Regions from separate parts of the Homo sapiens genome. Here region 2 is linked to region 1. The links come from fine-mapping of genetic effects on gene expression. A gene starts in region 1. The other region holds a variant in brackets. All regions are shown on one strand. Distances are from middle to middle.

The links. PIP is the estimated chance that this variant, and not a neighbour inherited with it, causes the effect.
Region 2: its variant is fine-mapped to the expression of KCP in anterior cingulate cortex (GTEx, PIP 0.98).

Annotation. Positions count from the first base shown.
Region 1 is chr7:128,905,117-128,916,704 of GRCh38, forward strand. KCP (kielin cysteine rich BMP regulator) reads right to left here and starts at 5,593. Exons shown (of 40, transcript NM_001366122.1): 1 at 5,485-5,593; 2 at 3,310-3,452; 3 at 2,148-2,337; 4 at 1,985-2,061; 5 at 1,163-1,247. The coding sequence starts at 5,560. It also overlaps the pseudogene LOC392787.
Region 2 is chr7:128,860,716-128,872,303 of GRCh38, forward strand. It overlaps ATP6V1F (ATPase H+ transporting V1 subunit F), which reads left to right and starts at 2,141. Exons shown (of 2, transcript NM_004231.4): 1 at 2,141-2,347; 2 at 4,662-5,132. The coding sequence starts at 2,190. The coding sequence ends at 4,863. It overlaps SPMIP1 (sperm microtubule inner protein 1), which reads left to right and starts at 5,615. Exons shown (of 2, transcript NM_001195150.3): 1 at 5,615-6,115; 2 at 7,951-11,332. The coding sequence starts at 5,695. The coding sequence ends at 8,060. It overlaps FLNC-AS1 (FLNC antisense RNA 1), which reads right to left and starts at 1,911. Exons shown (of 4, transcript NR_149055.1): 1 at 1,810-1,911. RefSeq lists enhancers at 1,755-1,864, 1,945-2,434 and silencers at 8,483-8,592, 8,723-9,242, 9,303-9,422. The variant T/C (reference allele first, on the strand shown) is at 6,201.

The DNA.
Region 1 (11,588 bases):
ACTGGTCTGAGTCCTTGTCCCACCTTTCTTACTACCAACTGAGACTCCTCTCTCGGAGGGGCTTCCAGATGAAATATAGGATGCCCAGTAAAATTTGAACTTCAGAAGAATAAGACGTCAATTTTAGTATAAGAATGTCCTAAATATTGCATAGGATATACCTATACTAAAAACTTACATGCCGTTTATTGAAATTAAGATTTAACAAAGCATTCTAGACTTTCATTTGCTAAATCTGGCAACACTATCACCTTATGAGCCAGTAACACCCCCCTGCATAGCCATGACCTCCTCTTCCTCCCAGCTCTCTTCATGTCCCCAGCACCACTGCTATCCTAGTGTCCCAAGCTCGGCCTCCACTATTCCAGGGGACCCAGCCAGTCACCGGCTCCTGCCCGTCCTTTAGAAACATCCCCCTTTCTCCAGCCCACTGCCATCCCTGGCTCCATGCCTAGACAACTGCTGTCACAGCCCCGACGCCTCTGTCTGCATCTAGCCCTCACCAGGTGAATATTCCTCAAGCGCCCCCTTGACCATGCCACACGCTGCTTCAGCCTTCAATACCCCCCACTGCCCATAGAAAAAAGTCCTAATTGCAAGGCTTACAGCAGCCTGTTCCCACTGGCCTTCCCACATGGACTTCCTGCAACCCACCTCTCTCCACCCTGTCCTTGTGCCCAGAGGAACCTCACGTACTCCCTCTCCTTCAGGTGGAACCCCACTTTCCCATGAAGACCCAGCTCAAAGGACCCATTGTCTGTAAAGGCCCCCTGACTGCCCAGCCTCGACGGGCTTCCCCTGCCTCCTGTGCCCTCCTCTGGCAAAATACACACTGCACTGCCTTCTACACCTCCTCTTAATCTGCTCATTGGGTCTTCAATCTTGTGGTAGCTTGGCTATGAGCTTATCTTCTCAACTAGATTGGAGGCTCCCTGAGGGCAGGAAAAAGATTTTGTGCCTGTTTCCCTATGGTCTCTGGCTCAGTCCCAGGCCAGAGCCAGTATTTGCTGATTTGTGCATGGGTTCTGCACTCCCCTGGCCACTGTCAGAGTGAGTGGGTAGGCACCCCTGGGCATGTCCCAGACTCACTGAGGTGGCAGGCTGTGTCTGTGGGCCAGAGAAGGCAAGCAGGAGGTGGGGCTGAGACTGGCAGGAGGCTGACCTGGCTTACAGTGCGGGCAGCATGCTCCTGGCTCAGGGCAGGGTCCTCTTGGGCATGGCTTCTGGTTGCAAGTGATGGTACCTTCCTGTGGGAGCAGACTGAGGTGGCTGCACAGACATCAGATTCCTGGAGGGCAGGGCCTCTGGAAGTAAAACCTCAGCCCAGGCTGGGACATGTCATAGGGGCAAGAGGATGAGTTGGCTCTGTGGATGTGGGCTACCCTCTGTGTAAAGGCAGAAAAGAGACATCCCGCCCCCACTCCCATCGTCTCCTGATGCTCTTAACCCTAGGAAACCATCTCTTCCAGGTGCCAGCACATTCCCCAGAGAGGGGAGATCCTAGGAAGAAGACCGAAGACTTTCTCAGGGAGGAAGGAGGAAGGAAAGACTGGGGGAAGGTGGATGTGGCAACTGGTGAGGGAGAATAGGCAGGCCAGGGGGTTCCGAAGTAGAAGATGGGCAGTGGAAGAGTGGGAGGTGATATAGGAGGACAAGCAACTATTAAGTTGGTGCAAAAGTAATTGCGGTTTTTGCCATTAAAAGTCATGTCAAAAACCGCAATTACTTTTGCACCAACCTAATACATTCTCTGCCCTCCATGCCACTGTTGGCCAGGTCTGAATTGAGTGGCTTGGGGACCCCCCAGTGTCCGTGGGCATTGAGCTCCTTTTCCTACTCGGAATCAACTGAAAGCCACCGTGGCAAGGTGTGGGAGTGGCAGGCAGAGCCCATTATGCGACATCTTGAGTGCCACGCTGCAGTGACAGGTAGCTGGAGAGAGGCAGACAGGTGAGGGATATCCAGGTAGGTCCTGGGAGCTTACCAGACAGCGGCAGGTGGTGCAGGCATCTGGGGAGAAGGTCTCCCCGTTGCCGTAGGTCTGGCCATTTTGGCTGCAGCCTAAGGAGACAGCAGTGTCACTCAAGCACCCCATGCCATCTGCAGGTCTTTAGGTGGCCCCAGTGGGCGGATAGGGTGGCACTTACCCCTGCAATGGGGCAGGTGTGCTTGGGGGCCACAGTGAGCGGCCCCATCCTGGCAGACGCAGGCTGTGCAGGCGTCAGGCTCCCAGCGTGCCCCCTCGGGCCAGGCACGCCCCAGCCCCCAGCACTGGGGAGATGCAGGGTGGCACTCACAGGACTCCAGCTGCCTCACCCTCGTCTGCAGGTCCTTATTCTGGAGGAAGGAGATGGAATAGCAGGCACTGGCTCAGCTTCCCCCACCATCTCCAGTAGAGATGAGGGGTGTGAAAATGAGGCAGGATGAGAAAGAAGTTCGCCAATTCCAGAGCAGAGATGGGTCCCCCTCGGTCAGCATCCAGCTCAAACGATCACCATTCTCAGGGGGGCACGGGCCCCAATCTCTCCTTTGGACAAAATGGGGACCCAACCCTTGCCCCAAGAATTAAAGACATCTTTACCCATCCAAAATATTTTTGATGATGCCTTATATAGAATGCATTCCATAACATTCCCCAAATACATGGAACAGTACGAAACACGAACTGACAAAACAAATAGCCTGGAGGTTCTTCATTTGCATGAAAGAATCAATGTTAAGAATTGTTCTGGCCAGGCCTGGTGGCTCACACCTGTAATCCCAGCACTTGGAGAGGCTGAGGCGGGCAGATCACCTAAGGTCAGGAGTTCGAGACCAGCCTGGCCAACGTGGTGAAATCCTATCTCTACTAAAAATACAAAAATTAGCCGGGTATGGTGGTGCACACTTGTAGTCCCAACTACTCAGGAGGCTGAAGCGTAAGAATCACTTGAACCCAGGAGGCAGAGGTTGCAGGGAGCTGAGATTGTGCCACTGCACTCCAGCCTGGGTGACACATGGTGACTCCATCTCAAAAAAAAAAAAAAGAAAGAGAGAGAGAGAAAGAGAGAAGAAGGATGGAAGGAAGGAAGGAAGGAAAAGAAAGAAAAAAAAAGAAAGGAAGGAGGGAAGGAAAGAAGAAAGGAAGAAAGAAAGAAGAAAGAAAGAAAGAAAGAAAGAAAGAAAGAAAGAAAGAAAGAAAGAAAGAAAGGGAATTGTTCAGATAAGAGCTCTATTTTAGGCTCCCCCCTCCAAGCCTAACTCCTTCTCTCCCTCCCACTATGAGAAGCCCTCCTTACCCAATGCAAACCAGCACTGTCTCCATGGTACCTGTTCTCTGAGCTCCATCACTGCAGCCTCCAGTCGCCCCAGCCACTCTCGCAGGGGGTGCCACTGCTCCTGGGAGTTCCCAGCAAGGACTGAGGAATGGGCAGTTGTCTGCTGCCCAGGGGGCTCCCTGGGGACAGCCCCACCTGAAGGGCACAAGAATCCCATGTGGGCCTGAGGGTGAGGGGCTGGCCTGGCCACATTTTCTGGGTTCTGTCTTCTGACCCACAGGGGAAGGGGGTCATCCTGTGCACCCTGCCCTCTCCAATTGCCCACCCACCATCCAGGGCCGGGAAGCCAGCACAGGCTGAAACGCAGGGGAAGGCCACAGACATGCGCCAGGTGGAGCTGCTTTCAGGGGTCTGGGGTCTGGCTGAGAGTCTTTTCAGGGAGAACATGAGCAGCCCCCATCCCCTGACTCTCTGCACCTGTCAGAAAGGCCACAACTTTTGGAGAATGTGCTCAGGGAAGGACAACTGCTCCCGCCCCCAACCCTGAGCACGGTTTTCCAGGCTTGTGACAGGGGTTCCTGGGGGCTCCCACATTGGGTGGGGTGGGCTTCAAAAGTGGGACTTGGCTGCATTTTCTGAAGGGTGTGAGAAATGTGCTGGCAAGGCCCCTGCTAACTTTGAACACACCAGATCCAGTGAAGACAGCCTGTCCCTGCTTCTAGAAGACACTATGTCCAGGAAAGAGGGACGGGGCACCTCTGAGCTCTGGCCTGGGGTTAGGGGCGGCCACTTTCACCTTTTCACTTTGATCCTTCTCCTGCAGCCCAGAAAGTAAAGGCAGGAGGGGAAGAGGCAGACATAGGTCCCTCCTCCAGGCAGGGATGGGCAGGGAAGTTGAGGGTCTGGAGCGGAGGCAATAGGAACAGAGAGAGGAGGAGGGAGAGGGATGGGTCTTTCCCACCATGGCAGCTCATTAGTGAGGCCAGGCCTGGAGTGGCTTAAAAGGGTTTCTCACAGACACTAGGCCTGTGAGACAGGGGAACAATGTCACCCACTGTCACCATCAAAGGCAGAGGGGATTCTAGGCTAAAATTGAACTTGCTTTGTCCCAAGTTCCCTGGCTTGGTTAATGCCATCACACATACCCAGTTACTTAAGCCAGAAAGCTGGGGCTCAGCTCCCCTATTTTGTTGCCTGAGTTGTCCCCTAATACATCCCCCCCTTCTCCTCTCTCCACCATCTCCATTCAGAAGGCTGAAGACAAAGCGTCCCTGCCTCCATCTGTGCCCCTTCTCTCCACTCGACCTTTCTGAATCACACAGCCGAAGTCTCCCAGGAGCAAGTCCCGCTGGGATGGATCACAAGCACCGCCCACCTTTCCAGCCCCGCTACTTCTGGCTTATATCAGGGATTCTAACTCAGTTCCCGCACCCTGGGCGAATACTGGCCCTCAAACCCCAGGTGCCCTTTCCCATCTCCGTCCCTCTACTGGGGATCCTGTCACCCGGAATGGCACCCGGTCTCAGTCCTTCCCAAGCACACAGAGGGCGGCCACGATGGGCGTCTCAGCATCTGAAACCTTCTACCCAATCTAGACTCCCGTGGGGCCTCATCCTGCTGCCCAGGGCCCCTCCTCCCAGGCCACTCCTCCAGTTCTGCTTAAGTAGGCAGGCAGGATATGGGAGCCCGGGAGAAGCTGAATCCTCTGGGACCCCTAGGTGAAGCTAGGGCCAGCCTCGCCTGGAGAGACCTGCAGAAAGAGCTCCGAGTGGCACAAACTTGGCTGGTCCCCAAGGAATTGTCCCGGGTTCCCCTCTTAGCCTCCCCTGGCCCCGTGCCGGCACCGAGCCCTCCATTCCCGCCTGTCCTGCTCCGGGGAGGGCCAGACACAGATGCAAAGTCAGCTTCCACAGCGGGCCCCTTTTCTCCCCCTCCTTCGTCAAGACAAATAATTAACTTCAGACTCCCAGATGCCAGGGCAGCCGCACTCTCTCCCGCCGCCGGCTGCAGGAACCGCCCCCCTCTCCTGAACCCCCTGCTTTGGCCGTGGTCTTCCCCACCCTGCTCGCTCCCCCGACGGGGAGGACGGAGCTGGCCAGGGAGGCGCGCGAACCTCAGGCAGGGCTAAGAGCAGAGCCCCCAGCCCCTCTCGGCCCCCTCAGGCCGGGCTGATAGGAGGGAGGGGGCGCACCTGGCCGGACCCCAAGCCTCCCGCACCTGGACTCACCTTCCGCGCCCGCGGCCAGCGCCAGGGCCCCGAGGTGCAGGAGAAGGGACAGCGCAGCGGCCCCGACCCCGGCCATGCTAGCTCCGCCTCGCTCGGCTCGCCGTCTGTCGTCGCGGCTCAGCAGGCGCTGGGGAAGGCGGGGTGGGGACACACAGGCCGCTCCCACCCAGGCTTTGTTCAGGGAGGGCTCAAACCCCCCACCGCGCGCGCCTTTCCCATGCACACCTCCACCCGCCCCGGGCCCGGCCGGTCCTGACCCCAGAGAGCAGCTCCAGCTCGCAGGAAGCCCAACGGGGGTGTAGGCCTTGTCTCCGCTTAAGATCCAGGAGGAGACCCTGAAAAGAAAATAAACCCAAGTCCACCCCTCTCGGGATCCTAGAGAGTCTCCCTGCCCTTTTAGGTTACTCCATCGCCCTAGGGTTTCCAGATCGATTTTTCCTCTCTCTCACAAGTTTACAGAAGAAGCAGACTGAGCTGGGTTTAGATCCCTGCTCAGCCAATTCCATGTGGCCTTAGACCACTAACTTCTCTGTGCCTCAATTTCCCTATCTGTAAACTGGGGATCACCACATCTACTTTATAGACTTGCAGTGAGCATTAAGTGAGATTATATAAGTAAAGAATTTAGAGTCGGTAGAGAGATGGTAAATGCTCAGTAAATAACAAATAATAATAATAAGAACTCCTGATCTCTGAAATCATGGACACGACCAGTGTTTTCCTCTCTCCCCTATAAGTTTCTTTCCTGAACTCCACTCAACACCCCTACCCACCCCAGCAGTCCCAGGCTTGGCCCCAAATGCCAAGGCCGCCCTTCACTGGCTGGTCTCAGCCCCATTTCCCACTCCTGAGCTCAGGCCTGGCTGTGGGGTGAGCCTGGGTAGGGGGCAGGGCTGGGCCCTGGGCTCAGCAGGCAGAGGGGGCCAAAGGGAGGAAGTGAGGACAGCCGTCCCTGTGGGCCCACAGGCTGGGAAACTCCTCCTTGAAGCTGGGAAGCAGAGGGTTGGGTCTCACAGGCGAAGCTCACAGGCAAAAAGGAACATTGAGGGCGGAGCTGTGAACCCTTCCAAAGCTCTCCCTCCCTGTCATAAAGACCAGAAGTCGGAAGCCACCCCTCCCCCTAGACCAGGCAGGGACTGAGGTCTCCCCAGCCCACTCTCCACCAAGCTTAAAGCTTCAGTAAGGAGACGGCAGCTTCTCTGCCCCAGAGTCTGGGCCCATAGTGGACCTGAGCCTTTGCCACAGGGGGCAGGGAGGCTGCAATGCCACGCTAAGACCTGGCCTCAGTGCCTGGAGCTGAGGTCACAGAGGAAAGCCAGGGCCAGCCAGCCAGAAGAGGAACAAGGAAGCGGCAGCACTATTCCTGGCAGGTTTAAGGAAGGTGGCTTTCATTGACCGGGTGCCTCTGGAAAGCAAGTCCTCTGAGGGGCTGGGTAGTGGGACGGTTCAGAGCACAGATTCTGGCAGGGTTGCCAGGGCGCATCCTGGAGCTCTTGCTTTCTGCTCTGGGGCCTCTGGCTGGTCACTTCACTTTTGGTGGCTGATTTTTCTGAACTGTGACTGGAGCTCTAACAGCACCCACCTCATGGAGTGTTTGTAAGGATTAGTAATGCATGGTGCTTGGCACAGAGGTATGAGCAATTTTTACTTCCCTTATGAAGAATGGGGGCACCTCCATCCCCATTTTACAGAAAGAATCAGAGAGAATCAGGGTGAGCAGCTCTAAACCACACTGGGAGGATGCACAGGGCTTCCCTCGCCCCACAGTCCCCTTCCAGTCCCTTGTGTCTTAGCCTCTGCCACTGAGCCTGGCCCCAGTCGGCCCTCATATCACATTCCCAGGGAGGGACACTGTCCTGACACAGAAAAGGTCCTCCAACCCCTGGGGTGCGGTGGGGTGGGGAGGCTGGGCCTTCACTTCACCCCCAAGGCAGGTGTTTGTAGTGTCTGATTCTGTGTGTGTGTGTCTGGGTGTGGCACATTTGTGTGTGTGTGTGTGTGTATGTAATGTGTGTTTGGCTGGAGGTGGGGGCTGAGGCTGGGGAGGCACTTTTGGGACTCAAGGGACCTTGACTTTGAAGGGGCTTCCAGGGACACTTTCGTCACCCCACTTGACGATAAGGATGTAGTCCCTTTCTCCTTGACAGTGTAGGTGACATTGTACACCCGGTTCCCCATGTGCTTCACGTACACCTCCTCACAGGGGGTCTTGGGGCCGTGCACGCCCACCATCATCATGTTGGTGCCTGGAGAGGGAGGCAGAGGGACAGGCTCACACCAGGGAGTCCCCTACTGTGACCCACACCCTGCTCCCTGACGGCTTCTTGCTCACACCCCGGGAGACGCCCTCCCCCCGCCACCTGCCTGCTTTGCTGCAGTCCACGGTGAAGGAGTTCTTCTGGCCCACGAAGGCCTGGGACAGCCCAGGGCCCCGAGTCACCACCTTGCTGGCATCTGAGGAGAACTTGGGGATGGAGTTGTAGCTGGAGCCCCGGCTTGAGGAGGACTTGGTCACAGTCTCCACCAGAACCGTGGATGTTTCGTGAAGGCTGTGGCCTCCGGACAGCCTCGGACCTGAGGGGTGGGTGGAGGGGGCACAAACCTAGTCAGAAGGGCTTCCCGTTCTTCCCCAGGCAGGGGACCCTCGGCCAGCACTGCCACCCTGTGGGACTCACTGCCTGCATTTGAGGTTCCCCCCCAAATTCCTCCAAGGGCCACTCTAGGAGCACAGCCCCATTCCCAGCCAGGGCCCTGAGCTGCCAGCTCCAATTGGTGCTCCACCCTAGGGCTGGGGCCTCAGATGCTGCGTCCCTCATCCTTGCAGGCTTTGTCTGGGAACTCAGGCTAACTCACAGGGTAAGAGCCACTTTACAAAGGAACACCCACCCAACTCATCCTACAGACAGCCTCAAGAGGGGAAGCTTGCTCAATACCGACTGTGTCTTCTTGGAGCGGAGGAATATGGGAAGCCAGGAGGGAAGAAAGTGGTGCTAGAGCCTGAGGAGCCAGCGCAGGCCAGAGCTGAAGGAGTGAGGGGCCACGATGGAGAGGAAGAATGGCATTTTTACATGATCATGCCCGACTCCACAGAACGTGTACTGTGTAGAGCCAGGCCCACCTCTAGCCCTGGTAAACTGACCATGATGTCTGGGGGCAGACTATGGCCTAGATGTGCGTGGCCACCGGAGCCCTCCAGGCTGGGCTGGGCTGCAGGCTGGGTGGACCTCCCCCAAACCGGCACTCACCAGTGACCTTGGCCTTGAAGGGGCTGCCCACGATGTGCTGGGGGCCACCGTACTTGATGGCAATGAGGTAGTTGCCAGGGGCCATGGGAGTGTCAGTGACCACGTGGCCCTCAGGACACTCCCAACAGTCCAGCTGCACCTTGGTGGGGCCATCAATGGTGACAGACAAGGTCCCCGAGCAGGCGTTCAGGGCGTTCACATGATCTCTGATGACACACCTGGGGGCCAGAGGTAGCAAGGCTGAGGGCAGGAAGGGCTTGTGGCCCAAGATGGGCTGTGCCTCAGCTCCCTGGGCAGCCTCTGTGAGGGGCTGCCACTGCCCCATGCCCAGCCTGGCCCCTGCCTGCCAGCCCAGCCTGGGGGCAGGAGGAACCAGGGTCCAGTGTGCAGTCCACGGCACGTACCTGCTCTGAGGGGCACTGGCCTAGCTGTGCTGGGTACCAGGCAAATGAGAGGTGATATGCCCTGTCCTGGCTGAGGAAGGCAGAGCCCCACACTGTGTGAAGCAGTCTGAGGGCAGAAGGCAAGTGCCTGATGGGCTGTGTCAGCTCTGGACGCATGAGCACTAAAATGTGGGAAGCTGAGTGTGGCTGGACTAACCTGGGAGAGCTTTGGGGAGGAGGCGGATCAATGGGGAGGACTGGAAAGGCTCTAGGGGAAAAGGAAATAAACTTGTTGGGGGAGCCCCAGACCTGGAATATGAGGAGGGGATGCACAAGGGCTCCCGACGGGCTGGTAAAATCTCACAGCCAACCCCAGGGCCCCAGTGGAGTCCCAGGCGACAGTCCCCTCACTCCAGGAGCTGCAAGGCTTTGGTACCAGGGGGCTGCTAGGGGAGGAAGTGCCACAGCAGTCCTAGTAAGAGTGGCCAGACGGCAGGCGCCCTGCTGCCTCCAGGGTTGTTCTGGGTCGCATGTCTCCTTGCAAACCCACACCCAGCTCAGGGAGAGGACAAAGGTTTTGCTGCATTGGGCCTGATCCTAAATCCCACCCCTCCAGGTGAGCTGTCCACACCCCAGGCCCTGCTGCTTGCCTGGTCCAAACAGGCTGAGGCTCTGGGGCAGCAGGTGCCCAGAAAGAAGCTTCTTTCGGCTTCCTCCGAGAGGCAAGGTGGGGGAAGACCAGGGTACAGGGGGAAAACCCCCAAGTAGGGCCTTCAGATGAAAGGGGGTGATTTCCCAGTGACTCCCTAGACTCTTGGATCCCCTCAGCCCCAGCCCCAGGCCCGACAGCTACGGGGTAGGGGGAGGATGGAGGTAGGGGGAGGGGAGGTCTTGACAGTTTTCTCTGTGGACACAGCCGGTGCACTTTCAGGCCCTGGGGACTGGGTCCACGGGGGCCCAGGCCCACTCCAGTCCTCTGCCCCCGCTCCCCGCTTCCCCTCCGCCCCCCTCCCCCCTCCCCTCCGCCCCCACCCCTCCCGCTGGCTCCGCGGGGGCACACCCCCTGGGCCAGCCCGTGGAGCCACCCTCACCCCCAGGGACGCTCCTCGGCTGCTAGAGCAGCACCCCGGTCCTCGCCCTGCTGTGTCCAGCGGGGCCGCGAGGCTGGGGAAAGTCCCCCACTCCCGCCTCTGCTCCCGGGCACCTGCTCCCGCCCTCCCGGGTCCGGAGACAACCGCTCAAGGCCAGCGCTGGTCCTCGCCATCTTCCTCCAAATCCCAGCCATGCTAGTCTCACTTTTCCTCCACGTTCAGCCTCTTCATTGTTGCCTTCTTAAGTTCTGGGACAAGACCTACAGAAACCAGCCCAGGAACTATTGCGCCCCATCCTTCTCCGCTGCTCTGGGGGCCGGCGTCTACCATTCCCGGCCGCGAGCCCAGGGACGGACGGAGCCTCTACCTGACACTATCTTCCCCCAAACTCTTGCACAATTCCTGCCATTGGCCTGAAGATCCCGGGGGATGAACGCTTTAAACCTCCACCTTTTTTTCCGAAAGGGTTAGGGTGACCCGGGAAGAGCGAGGGCGAGTGCATCGAAAGTAAGGATCGGGCCTCGCTCCTCTGTGGACCAAGCCAGCCTCCAGCAGGGCGCCTGGGAGCCCCCATTCTGGGCGATGGCGGGGTGGGGGTGGGGGGGTGGGAGCAGCAGAGCCTGCGCCCCCAGCTGCGGTGCCGACCTCGCCGCCTGGGCCTTGGGGTTCCCTGGGCGCCAGCACCTCAAACGGATCGGGGCGTGAGGGGCGCCTGGGAGGTCCCAGGCCGGCGGGGCGCGCCCTGCTGTAGGCACCCACCGAAGCTCGGTCTCCAGGCGCAGCTGGACGCGGACCCCGCCCTACTCCAGTCTTCATCCGGTCGCCCGCAGGTGCCTGAGGGGCGCGGGCCCTGGTTGAGGCCTAGACTTGTGGGTGGGCAACAGCCGGTACCGCTCCCACCACCTTCCGGACGCGGGGACGCGGGGACGCGGGGACGCGGAGAGGAGAGAGCGGCGGCCGGGACCCACCTGTCTGCGATGCTCCTGCGTGGCTGCGCCCTTGAGCACTGGTGGGGCGGCGGGGCCGAGCTGACTCTGCCCGGGCTGCGCTGGGTTCTTCTGCACCGCGCCGGCCCCGACCGGAGGGACCACTCGAGGAGGCTGGCACTTACCGGTGACTACTGACCTGGAGGGAGCATTGGGCCAGGCCCAGGGCCTGTAAGGAGACGCCAGACAGATAGCGCGGTGGCCTAGACGACCACTGGGCTTCTTCGGCAGTCTGGAACAGGGAAATAGTAATTCCATAACCTCAAATTCCGCTCCGCGCCCCGCCCCCCGACTCCCCCCAGCTCTGAAGGGTCCGCAGGTCTTCCCCAGTCCATGCTATCGTTGAGCTCTGGCACCTGAAAGAGATGGTTTCCCGGGTCAAGAGCATTAGGATGCCAG
Region 2 (11,588 bases), 44 kb before region 1:
CTACTACCATCTGAAGAAACCAAGGCCCTGGGAATTTCAGTGATGAGTCTGAAACCGTACCTTTAAGTAGTGGGGCACAGATTGAAACCCAGGTGTGCCCGAATCCCAAGCTTATCACACATACAATCGCTAGACCAGACCACGGGCACGTCTCAAGCACTCCAAACTCACAAACCCCATGCCAGACACCGGGAGTGCTGATTTGTTAAAAGGGAGGAGGAAAGAGTGGCTCCTTCCCCTTCAGCCTGCTCATCTTACAGAGGTCACTTTCTTGGCAATGTTACTCCCATCCATGTGCTGCACAGGCCAGAAACCTGGAAATCACCCAGGTCTCTCTCTCTACCTCACTCCCCAAACACATCCACTCTGAAACCAGTTTTGTCCTAAATATCTAAATATCTCTCGGCTCTACCTACTTCTCTGCGTTTCCCATTATCACCACCTGAGTCCTGGCCACCATTATCTCTCACAGTGGCCTCCCAATTTGGTTTCTCCTCCCTCAGTTTCGCCTCTGCACACAGCACAGTCAACAGTGAGTGACAGCTCTAAAACGTAAGTTTGGCGATAGCACTCTCTTACTTGAAATCCCTCAGCAGCTTCAGGATAACTGTCCTCAGGATAACTTCCAGATCTTTTTTTTTTTTTTTTTTTTTTTTTAGACAGAGTCTCACTCTGTCACCTAGGCTGGAGTGCAGTGGCGCCATCTCAGCTCACTGCAACCTCCCTTGCCCGGGTTCAAGCAATTGTCCTGCCTCAGCCTCCCGAGTAGCTGGGACTACAGGCACACACCACCTCACTGGGCTAATTTTTTTTGTATTTTTAGTGGAGATGGGATTTCACCATGTTGGCCAGACTGGTCTCAAACTCCTGACTTCAGGTGATCTACCCGCCTCAGCCTCCCAAAGTGCTGGGATTACAGGCGTGAGCCACCGCGCCCAGCCTGCAGATCCTTTTTTTTTTTTTTTAGACAGGGTCTCGCTCTGCTGCTCAGGTTTAAGTGCAGTGCCGTGATCATAGCTCACTGTAACCTTGAACTCCTGAGTAAGCCCTGCTGCCTCAGCTTCTCGAGTACCTGGAACTATAAGTGTGCACCACCACGCCTGGCTAATTTTTTTTTTTTTTTTTTTTTTTTTTTTTTGAGACAGAGTCTCGCTCTGTCACCCAGGCTGGAGTGCAATGGCACAATCTCGGCTCACTGCAACCTCCGCTTCCCGGGTTGAAGCAATTCTCCTGCCTCAGCCTCTCGAGTAGCTGGGACTACAGGCGCCCACAACCACGCCCGGCTAATTTTTTGTGTTTTTAGTAGAGACGGGTTTTCGCCATGTTGGCCAGGCTGGTCTCAAACTCCTGACCTCAGGTGATCCACCTGCCTCAGCCTCCCAAAGTGCTGGGATTACAGGTGTGGCGTGAGCCACCATGCCTGGCCTTACCAATTATTTAACTTTCCTTGAAGGCCCTACGCTCTCTAGTCAGTACGCCTTTGCACATGCTGTTCCTCTGCCTAGAACACCGTCTTGTCCTCACTTCTATCCCCTTCATCCTGCAGGTCCTTCAGGTCTCAGCTTAGATCTGAAGCAAGCTTCTTGGGGAAGGGTTCTTTGGACGCCCCCTCTCTCCATGGGTTAGTTACCATGGATGTGTGCTTCCATATACTTTTCACATTCTAACCATTAACACACAGCTTTGTAGTCGCCTGTTCCCTTGACTTTCCACCTCACTAGGCAGTATCATCATTAACTTTTGCATTCCTTTAACTGAACAAACGTGTGTTACTTGTTAACTATGTGTCATAGTTACACACATACATACACGATAAAGACCCAGACCCTGCCCTTGAGATGAGTAACTGCGTCTCTTCTCTGGGGTCTCGGCGTCTAACAGCGTCAGGTCCAAAGCGCTTGTTGAACGAATGAACCAAGGAACGAGTGAATGAACGAATGAATGCCCGCGAAGGACGTGGTGCCGCGCGGTCTTCTGGGAATCGTAGTCCCCTGGTTCGGGCCTGTCTTTACGGCGCAGGCGTATTCACATGGAGGCCGTGTTGCTGTTAATGCGCATGTCCCGGAATGCGGCTGGGAGGACTGCGCATGCTCGAAGGGTGGGGGTTGAGGCCGACGGGGCGCCGTACGGCGGAGGCGGGGTTTCAGTGGCTTCTGGTGCTCTAGGGTGAGCTCTGCCCGGCTGCAGGGATGGCGGGGAGGGGTAAGCTCATCGCAGTGATCGGAGACGAGGACACGGTGACTGGTTTCCTGCTGGGCGGCATAGGGGAGCTTAACAAGAACCGCCATCCCAATTTCCTGGTGGTGGAGAAGGATACAACCATCAATGAGATCGAAGACACTTTCCGGTACGGTACCGCGCGAGGCCTGAACGGGCCCTTCTGCTGCTCGGTGGAGTGCGGGGCGAGGCTGGAGGCTGCCCGGACGGGGGTGAGGGGACGATCCTGAAAGTCCTTCCGCCCTTCCGGAGCGGAGGCCTCCGCGCCCCAAGTCCCCGTTTGGGGCTCGGTGGGACAGAAGCTGTATCAGGTCCACGAGCCCCCCCACCTCACATGATCGTGTGTCATGAAAGAAGGGGAACAGAGCTCGTGACAGCCTAGACAGTGGGCTTGGACTTTGTTCTGCTTTCTCCTCCTTTAGAGGCTCACCATCGTCCCGTAAGGCAGGGATGATTTTTGTCCTACTCACAGGTGAGAAAACTAAAGCTCGGAGAGGGTAAGGCACACACTAAAGTTACGAGTCGGCAGAGGCAGAGCTAGAATTTGAACCCAATCTCAACCCTTTCTGCCTCCGGTAAGCCAGGTACACACTCTTGGCAGGTCTCCTCAGGCGGCCTCGGAATTTCCTTGTAGTCTTGAGCACAGTAGGCAGAAATGTCGGGACTGTGAGAGCCTTCTGCTAAGACCTTGCACTCAAGCCCTCACTGCCTGCCTTAGGTCAGAGTGTGGGTGCAGGCATGCTTTTAATCCACCAGGGGTCCTGGTGACTGGAATTAAGGATACCAGCCTCCTATTTTATTCCTCACCCCTTCTCCAGGGCCCCTGTACCAAGTCTCAGGAATAAACCACTCACCTGTTTCCCCCAAACAGTCCAGCCCAGGGCTGCTGGCTGAGACTGGTTCCTGCTGCCTGGTGTATTAGGTAGTCCCTGACCTGGGAGGCTGTTATCTGCCATTCTCTAAGCTGTCTGGTAAAGTGACCCAAGTTATCATGGGAGAAGGACAAATTTTACTTCAAGAATTTTTTATGTTTCCAACCAAAAGGGACCTCAGAGATCAAATCTAACCCAGTGACTGGCAGGGGGTGGGTGCTCAGTAAGTAATTTTTAATCAGTAAATAAACGAATGAGTCTGGGTGCAGTGGCTCACGCCTGTAATCCCAACAGTTTTGGAGGCCGAGGCGGGTGGATCACCTGAGCTCGGGAGTTTGAGACTAGCCTGACCAATATGGTGAAACCCCATTTCTACTAAAAATACAAAAATTAGCCAGGCGTGGTGGCGGGTGCCTGTAATCCCAAGAAATCAGGAGGCTGAGGAAGGAGAATTGTTTGAACCTGGGAGGTGGAGACTGCAGTGAGCCGAGATCCACCACTGCACTCCAGCCTGGGTGACAGAGGGAGACCCTGTCTCAAAAAAATAAAAATAAAATAAACAAATGAATGGGTGGGTGACCACAGGAGAGAAGGAGCACAAGGCCAGGTTCTTTTTGTGCAGAAAGTGTGATTCCTTCATCAAGGTGTCCTCTTCCTAGCTTGTGATCTTAGTTCATGCCAAACTTTCCCTCTGACCCCTCCACCACCCTCATCAGGATAGACCTTGAGGCCTTCAGTGGTCTCATCAGCCCTATTTTTAAATAATTTGTTTTCTTTTTAAAAGTTAATGTGTCTTTTTTTTTTTTTTTTTCTGAGACAGGGTCTCACTCCTGTCACCCAGGCTGGATTGCAGTGGCGTGATCGCAGCTCACTGCGGCCTCGACTTCCCAGGCTCAAGTGATTCTCCCACCTCAGCTTCCTAAATAGCTAGGACTACAGCTTCCCAAGTAGCTGGCACATGCCGCCACATCCAGCCATTTTTTTTTTGTGTGTATATATATAGATAGATAGATAGATCCGCCACATCCAGCCATTTTTTTGTGTGTGTATATATAGATAGAGAGAGAGAGAGAGAGAGAGGGAGATGGGGGTCTCACTATGTGGCCCATTCTGGTCTCAAACTCCTGGGTTCAAGCAATCCACCTGCCTCGGCCTCCCAAAGTGCTGGGATTACAGGCGTGAGCCATCACAGCTGGCCTTCAGTATCTGCACATAAAAAGGGATCTGCATACATATAATCTTATCCTTCCCCTTTCTGACACATCACTGCATATTGAATACACCAGTGTGCACCCTAATCAATCTTCATTACCAGTTCACTTGGAAGCCTTCCGGGCAGTGTTGTAGAAGCCAACCCTAATCAGCGTGACCCTCCGCTTTGGGATGAAATTGATTCTAGGTAGGGTTGACAGAGGGTTGAGCGTGGCAGCCTTTCCCCTTGTCCTCTGTGCCCTCTGGGTCATGCTCATTCCCCTCCACAGCCCAGCCCAACAACTCGGAGAGGGCTGCCTGGGTAGGAGAGACGGCAGCCCCCAGAGCTGTCCTGGACTCCCTTCTCATCTCTCCCCACAGGCAATTTCTAAACCGGGATGACATTGGCATCATCCTCATCAACCAGTACATCGCAGAGATGGTGCGGCATGCCCTGGACGCCCACCAGCAGTCCATCCCCGCTGTCCTGGAGATCCCCTCCAAGGAGCACCCATATGACGCCGCCAAGGACTCCATCCTGCGCAGGGCCAGGGGCATGTTCACTGCCGAAGACCTGCGCTAGGGGACTCCTCATAGCCCTCAGCCCTTCCCTCGTTTCCAGGCCTCTCCCCAGGCTTGCCATCAGCCTTCTTTACTTTTTGAGCCTCTGATTTCCAATTCCCTGCTCCTTCCCACTCCATTAAGAGGCTAGGTGAGGCGCTTCTAGGTTGCTGGGGCTCTGCTGGTTAAGGAACAGGAAGCCTGACCATCTCCCTCCACTACCTCTTCCCTGTGCTGTTACACAGTGTCATTGTTGATGTTAAATTAAAGTCATATTCTTGCTTCTCTCCAGATGGGTTGGGTGCTGGAAAGGACATGTGTGGGGTGAGGCCATGGGGCAGATTCGGTTGGCAAGGATGGAAAAGGTGCTGCCAAAGACAGGCATAGAAGAGGTGGCCCAGGAGGATTGTGCCGGGAGGCAGAACTCAAGGACTGGTCCTTGGATCAGAGAAGACCAGCTCTGGTCTGGGGAGGAATGGGAGGAGGCTTGAGCCCAGCTCCTGCTTCCCCCACCTTGCTCGGCATTGGGCTGGGAAGGGGGCCAGATCCAAAGGACAGAAGCAGAAAGCACACGAAACCTGGGAGTCTGTGATGCCAGATCCCGCGAGGGCCCTGCGGGAGTTTTGGGGGGAGCAGGGCTCTTAACCAGTGGGCCCTGGCCTCAGGCTGCCTCAGGAAGCCAGGCTCATGGGGTCTGCTGGGGGCATGGCAAGTAGAACCCTGGCCCTGTGTGAGGTGAGGCATGGTTGCCAGGTGACTGTGCCTGGGCAGCCACTCGCCGTCAGAAGCACTCTGCTTGCTGTGCTCACCCCTCAGCTGTGGCCACCCTGGTGCCACTCCTTCCCTGGCCACCATGTCACGGCAGCTCAACATAGACGCGTTACGGCAGAACTTCTGGAAGGAGGAATATCTGAGGGAAAAGATGTTGCGCTGTGAATGGTACCGCAAGTATGGGTCGATGGTGAAGGCCAAGCAGAAGGCTAAGGCTGCAGCCCGCCTGCCCCTCAAACTGCCCACCCTGCACCCCAAAGCCCCACTCTCACCCCCACCCGCCCCCAAGTCAGCCCCTTCCAAGGTGCCCAGCCCTGTCCCAGAGGCGCCTTTTCAGTCGGAAATGTACCCGGTACCACCTATCACCCGAGCCCTGCTGTATGAAGGCATCTCCCACGACTTCCAGGGGCGGTACCGCTACCTCAACACTCGAAAACTGGACATGCCAGAGACGCGATACCTCTTCCCCATCACCACCAGCTTCACGTATGGCTGGCAGCTGGGTGAGCCCAACCTCTTGGAAATCACCTCAAAAACAGAGCACTAGCCATGTGCTAGGGAGTGGGCATCCTGGTGAAGGGTCCAGAC[T/C]ATAAACAGAGCAAGGAGATGGCCAAGAAGTGTCGACACGTTCCACAGAACTAGGGAGTGGCGGTGGGCAGGGAGGCAGCGGCCACGTGCTGCTATTTATTGGATTGTCAGGAAAGGCCTTTCTGAGGACCCGAGGCTGAGAGCCAGATGATAAGGATGGGTTTGGATTTTATTTGTTGTGCAGGGAAGCTGATGGAGGGTTCTAAGCAGATTTCAAGAGTGACACTGGTGAACCTTTTAAAAAGTCACCCTGACCTGTATGTAGGCAGTGGCTTTTTCAGGGGAAATGGTAGAATCTGGCACATGAGTTGGGCATCTGTTTGGTTATCCTGTGGTAGTGGCCTGAGGGATCAGCAATAGAGCTGAAATCAATTCAGGATGTTTTGGGGGAAGACTCGGTGGAACTCACCCATGGATAGAATGTGAGAATAAGGGGAAGAGAGATCAATCACCCAGGTGTTTGTTTAGCTAAAGCTGCAGTGACAGGGAAGACTGGGAGAGGTCAGGGCTGGAGCGTGCATGAACAGGTCCTATTTAGCCATGTGTGTTTGGCTATGTTATGCTTGAAGTGTCTGTAGGGTGGCTGTGTCTATAAGTCTGGATTGAAGTCAGAGCTGAAGATGCAAATTCGGAGGTCATTGGAATATAGGTGCTTTTTTTTTTTCTTTTTCTTTTTGAAACAGTCTGACTCTGTCACCCAGGCTGGAATGCAGTGGCACGATCTTGGCTCACTGCAACCTCTGCCTCCCAGGTTCAAGAGATTCTTCTGCCTCAGCCTCCCGAGTAGCTGGGACTGCAGGCGTGTGTCACCACGCCCAGCTAATTTTTGTTTTTTTAGTAGAGACAGGGTTTCACCATATTGGCCAGGCTGGTCTCGAACTGCTGACCTCGTAATCTGCCTGTCTCGGCCTCCCAAAGTTCTGGGATTACAGGCATGAGCCACCGGCTGGCCTATAGGTGCTATTTAAATCCATGAGATCTCCTAGGGAGCTCAAGTTGCTGGAATCTGATGGGAGTGGGGGCAGGAGGGCTGAGCCAGAGCGGGTAGGGGATGTCATTGGCAGGAAGCCTGTCCATCTCGGCTGAGTCTTTTTTCTGTGAGGTTGAGTCAAGGCCATCAGCGGGGAGGGAGCTGAGCTGAGGCAGTGGAGTAACTAGAGATGAAGAGGAAAGGTGTGGAACAGGCATGTGCCAGGCAGGGCTGCTGGGCGATGTTGCTGCACGTCCCATTGCTGTCTGTGCTCATGAATGTCAAGTGAGACTCCTCAGCCCTGTACCCTTCTCCAGCTGCTTGAGTGTCTTGCAGAAAAGGTGGATGGTTGGGGATTGACTCAGTTGAGATTTTGCCCCCAAACATCCCTTTCCCCCAGGCCCCTAAAGGGGAAGTCAGGGAAATAACTTTCTAACAAAAGCAGGAGGCGAGCCCTAGAAGCGGGGAGCAGGAGGCCGAAGGAAATCTCATCTCTCCACAGTCTGTCCCTGTGACAAGCAGGCTAGGGTGGCCCCCCTCCCTGCAGGTAGAGGATCCTGAAGCTAGGGTAATGATGGCAGATGGCTGCTGTATCCTGGCATCCAGCCAGCTCCCAGTATTTGCCCATAGCTCCCATTCCTCCAAAGCACTTTCTATTTCTTCCCACAAAGTGGCTACTCCACTGACGGATTCCTAGGGCTGTGCAGACAGACAGGGCTCCCATGCTCTGCGTGTCCCTCCCTCAGGAACCCATGCTTGGCCTCTGACATCTTTTCCCAGGCCCCCCAGTGAAGCAAGAACTGGTCTCCTGCAAGATGTGCCGCATTGAGTCATTCTTCCGCAAGAACGGGGCCTTCGCACTGCTTGATCCCCGAGACCTGGCCCTCTGACCGTGGGCCAGGTGTGGGCTTAGGGGAGGGAAGAAGAAATAACAGGCCTCCTGGTGGGGCAAAGCTGCTGTGTGTGTCTGTGCCCCTCTGCTCTCCCTGTCCCTGAGGTTGCATTCAGGCCTTTCTGAAACTATCAGACCTGCAAGTTGCCCTCTTGCTTTTTCCGTAACCCTCATCACTTTAATCATCCCTTTGAGGACTCAGCAATGACCAGAGGGTGCTGGGAAGGGCGAGCACTACTTCGCAGGCACGGGATCCTCAGCACCAGGGGAACACAGTAGTTCCAGGAAGTTCTGGGTGTTCCTGGGGAGAGAGCGGCTTGTCATTTCGGAGGCCAGGGAAAGGGGCCTCCTGCCACCGCCACACCCCTCCTTGCCCGCCCCTCACCTGGCCCCGAGGGCCCGCAGCCGCTCCGTCCTCTCCCGATGCATTTGCTCCAGCTGCTCCCGCAGGGCGCGCCGCCGCCCAGCCGCGTCCTCCTGGCGGTGCGGAGCGCTGAGCGTCCGCGGCTCAGTGGGGCGGGCGGGGCAGCACCTGGCACACCTGCCCCTCGCGCCCCGCCGAGTCACTGCCAGAGTGCAGTGCGCTCACTTCAAAGGGACCCGGGCGCGCTAAGCTCGGCCCCTGCCCCGCGCAGGCTCCTTGTGGCCCCACCGCCTTCTAGGGGTCTTGCCTGTGGCGGGAGTTGAGCCGGACTGGGCGGGAGCCCCACGGGGTGAACCCGGCAGTGGCGGTTCCTGGCGATGTGGAGGCGTTCCAGGACCTGCAGAGGCGGCAGTCAGCGTCCGGCCGCCCCTCGGTGCCCCGCCCGCTCCAGGCAGGCCCCGATCCCGGCGTGGGGACACACCCGGAGCCGCTGCTGCTCACGGTCCCGCCGGCGGCGCTGCCGCCTGGCCGCGCTGTGCAGCTCCAGCAGCCGCTGCAGAGCCGTCACCTGCTGCGCCGCGCTTAAGCCCGCAGGCGCCTTGGCGGTGCTGAGGGGCGCCGGCCACGCGGCCTTCAAGGCCTTGGGACGCTCAGGGCCGCCCCACCCGACCCCGGAGGGCACCCGGAAGCCAAGCCTGGCCCACCTCCTGCTCCCCCGGTGCGGGGCCCACTCCAGGGCCCTGCAGCCCGTGCGGATCGCGCTCCAGGCCTGGGGGCCCCGGAGAGCCCCGAGGAGCCCCTGCTGCCCGGATACCTCGGCGCGCAGGGTCGCTGGCATCTCGGCTCCGGCTCCGCGACCTGGGAGCCGCCGCCGGGCCGGGGGCTTCGGGCGGGTAAGCGCAGCCCACGCCCCCTCCCGGGCGGCCCCCAGCTTTGCCACCGCCGGTGCCGACCTTTGTGGCTCGCCTTTGATCATGCTCTGCGTCAGCGTGGTAGTCCTTCTCCGGAGGTTTGGGCTCTCCCTGCCCACAGGCTTTGGAGTCTGTGCTTTCAGGGACCCGCAGGAGTCCCTCGGATGGCTATGGGGGTCGCCTTCCTCTGGGGGCTGCACAGTGGCCTCTCCGGGAGCCACCTCCCAGGCTTGTGAGATATTGCCTTCCCAAGACCGCAGCATCTTCTTCCCTGGACTCTGGGGACTCGCCTTTCCCTGGCACTTAGGACTAAATTCTCTTCGACTCCTCCCTCTGACCCTGAGGAGCCCTTGGGCTCTGGCCCCCGTGTGTCTTCACCTTCTGACTCTGAGGAGCATCTTTGATCTCGCCCCAGGAGGCCTCGGCTCTCTTACGCTGAGGGGTCTCCGCTTTCTGATCCTGAGGGTCCTCCTCTCAGACTCAGGGGTGTCCATCCTTGGTGGTCTTTGAAGTTCTGCTCTCTCCTGGCCCAGGTGCGGGTCCGAGCCCAGCCCTTCAAGGGCATCTTGGGAAGGCAGGTTTTGGGAGGGCAGGTCCCCCGGCCCAGGGGTCCCGGGAGTGAGCTTTCTTTTCTGGGTCTCAGGCTCTGCCTCACTCCTCTCTTCCCTCTGGGCCAGGTCCTGGAAAGGAAAAGCACTTTGGGCCCAGGTTTGAGAGGGAACCTGCAGACCCCAGGGGCCAGCCTTTGCCTGATTCCTGAATTTGTTAAAGCCATTTTATGTAGTGTGGAAGGTGCTTCACTGAAGAGCCTCCTCCTCACCCCAGCAGCCTCCTCCCAGGCAGACCCACCCCTGCCATCCCCAACCTGAGACCCTTGACCTTTTCACCTTGCACTCTGAGCTACCTGGCACCCCAAAACTCCTCCTGGTAGTGGGGTTGAGCTCTTGTAAGGAGCCTGAGGAAGAAAGACCAGTATTGGGAGCTCATGTCCCAGCCCCTCATGCACAGTTCACCTAGACTAGAGCCAGGAAGTTTAGGGAGTCCCAGTGCATGGCTAGGGGTGCCCTGAGGGCGCTGTCTGAACCTCAGGCTGTCACAGTTCATCAATCAGCCAGCCATGCACCTGTCAGGTGTGCCTGCCAACAGCCTGCCCCATCTTTCTCATCCTCCCAGCCAAGGCAGACCACTCCAGAGGGACCTGCACAGCCCCTTCCTCAAGACCACCACAGGAGGCCTGGGAGTGAGAAGGGTCACGGTGCTGGGTGCCTGGGTTCCTCAGCACCGGCCACTCCCACTTTGCCCTGGTGTGCCCATCAGGCCCAGAGAAGAAACCCGCTCTGGGCGTCTTACTTTTTACTCTTATTCAGAAAAACCTTCCTTAGCCTTTTCTTTGTTTCTGACAGCAAAATCAAAGGAAATTCAAGATGAAATTTTAGGCCAGAGCCTGGCCTAAAAACTGCAAGTGTTCATAATTAACAAAAGAAATCTAAAAAAAGAGATGATGTGTTGCCGCTCCCCTGCAGCTGTGGAGGAAGGAGAGCTGTTCTGCATCCATAAAAACCAGTTAAAAGGGATTTCATAAGGTCTGAAATTGAGAACTTTCCCAAGAATACTGCATCTTGTTCTCTTGTGCAATATACAGACGTGTGAATATTCCTAACAGTAACCAAATGGGTGCACTCTCTGTGAAAACGCATCTTTCAAAGAGTTTTTTAAACAAAGGAGACTCCTGGGCCTTTAGAAATAATTGCCACAAACTGCAAAAACAATCTCCAACCTCCCACTTCTGTAATTCTCATCTGTTGTCTTACTAGAAAATTTATTTCTCTGGTAATAATGTTATAATTGATATCCCTGTCTTCTCAAGATGTAAAATACTTGTAAAAACTTCTCTGTCCATCAGAAAATAATTATTGGCACTTTTCTTCTCTCTCATGTGCATGATGGAACAATAAAAAGCTTATGGCTTTGCTAGATCTATTATTTAACAAACAATTTGAGAGTCTGTTTCATTTAAATTAATAGGCTCAAGGCTCACAGTATCCATTCCGCTGCCTGTTTATTGTCATGCTATTTCTAGCCTGTGATCTAAAGACAAGCACCTAGTCTCCTTGTTCTCTGTATATCTCCATTGCCCAGCTGAAGGGTGGCAAACAGGTGGCCTGTGCCTGGCTGAAGGGTGGCAAATAGGTGGCCTGGAGTTGGTATTCTGTTCCCTCATCCCCGGGCAGCCAGTGATGCTCATTCCTGA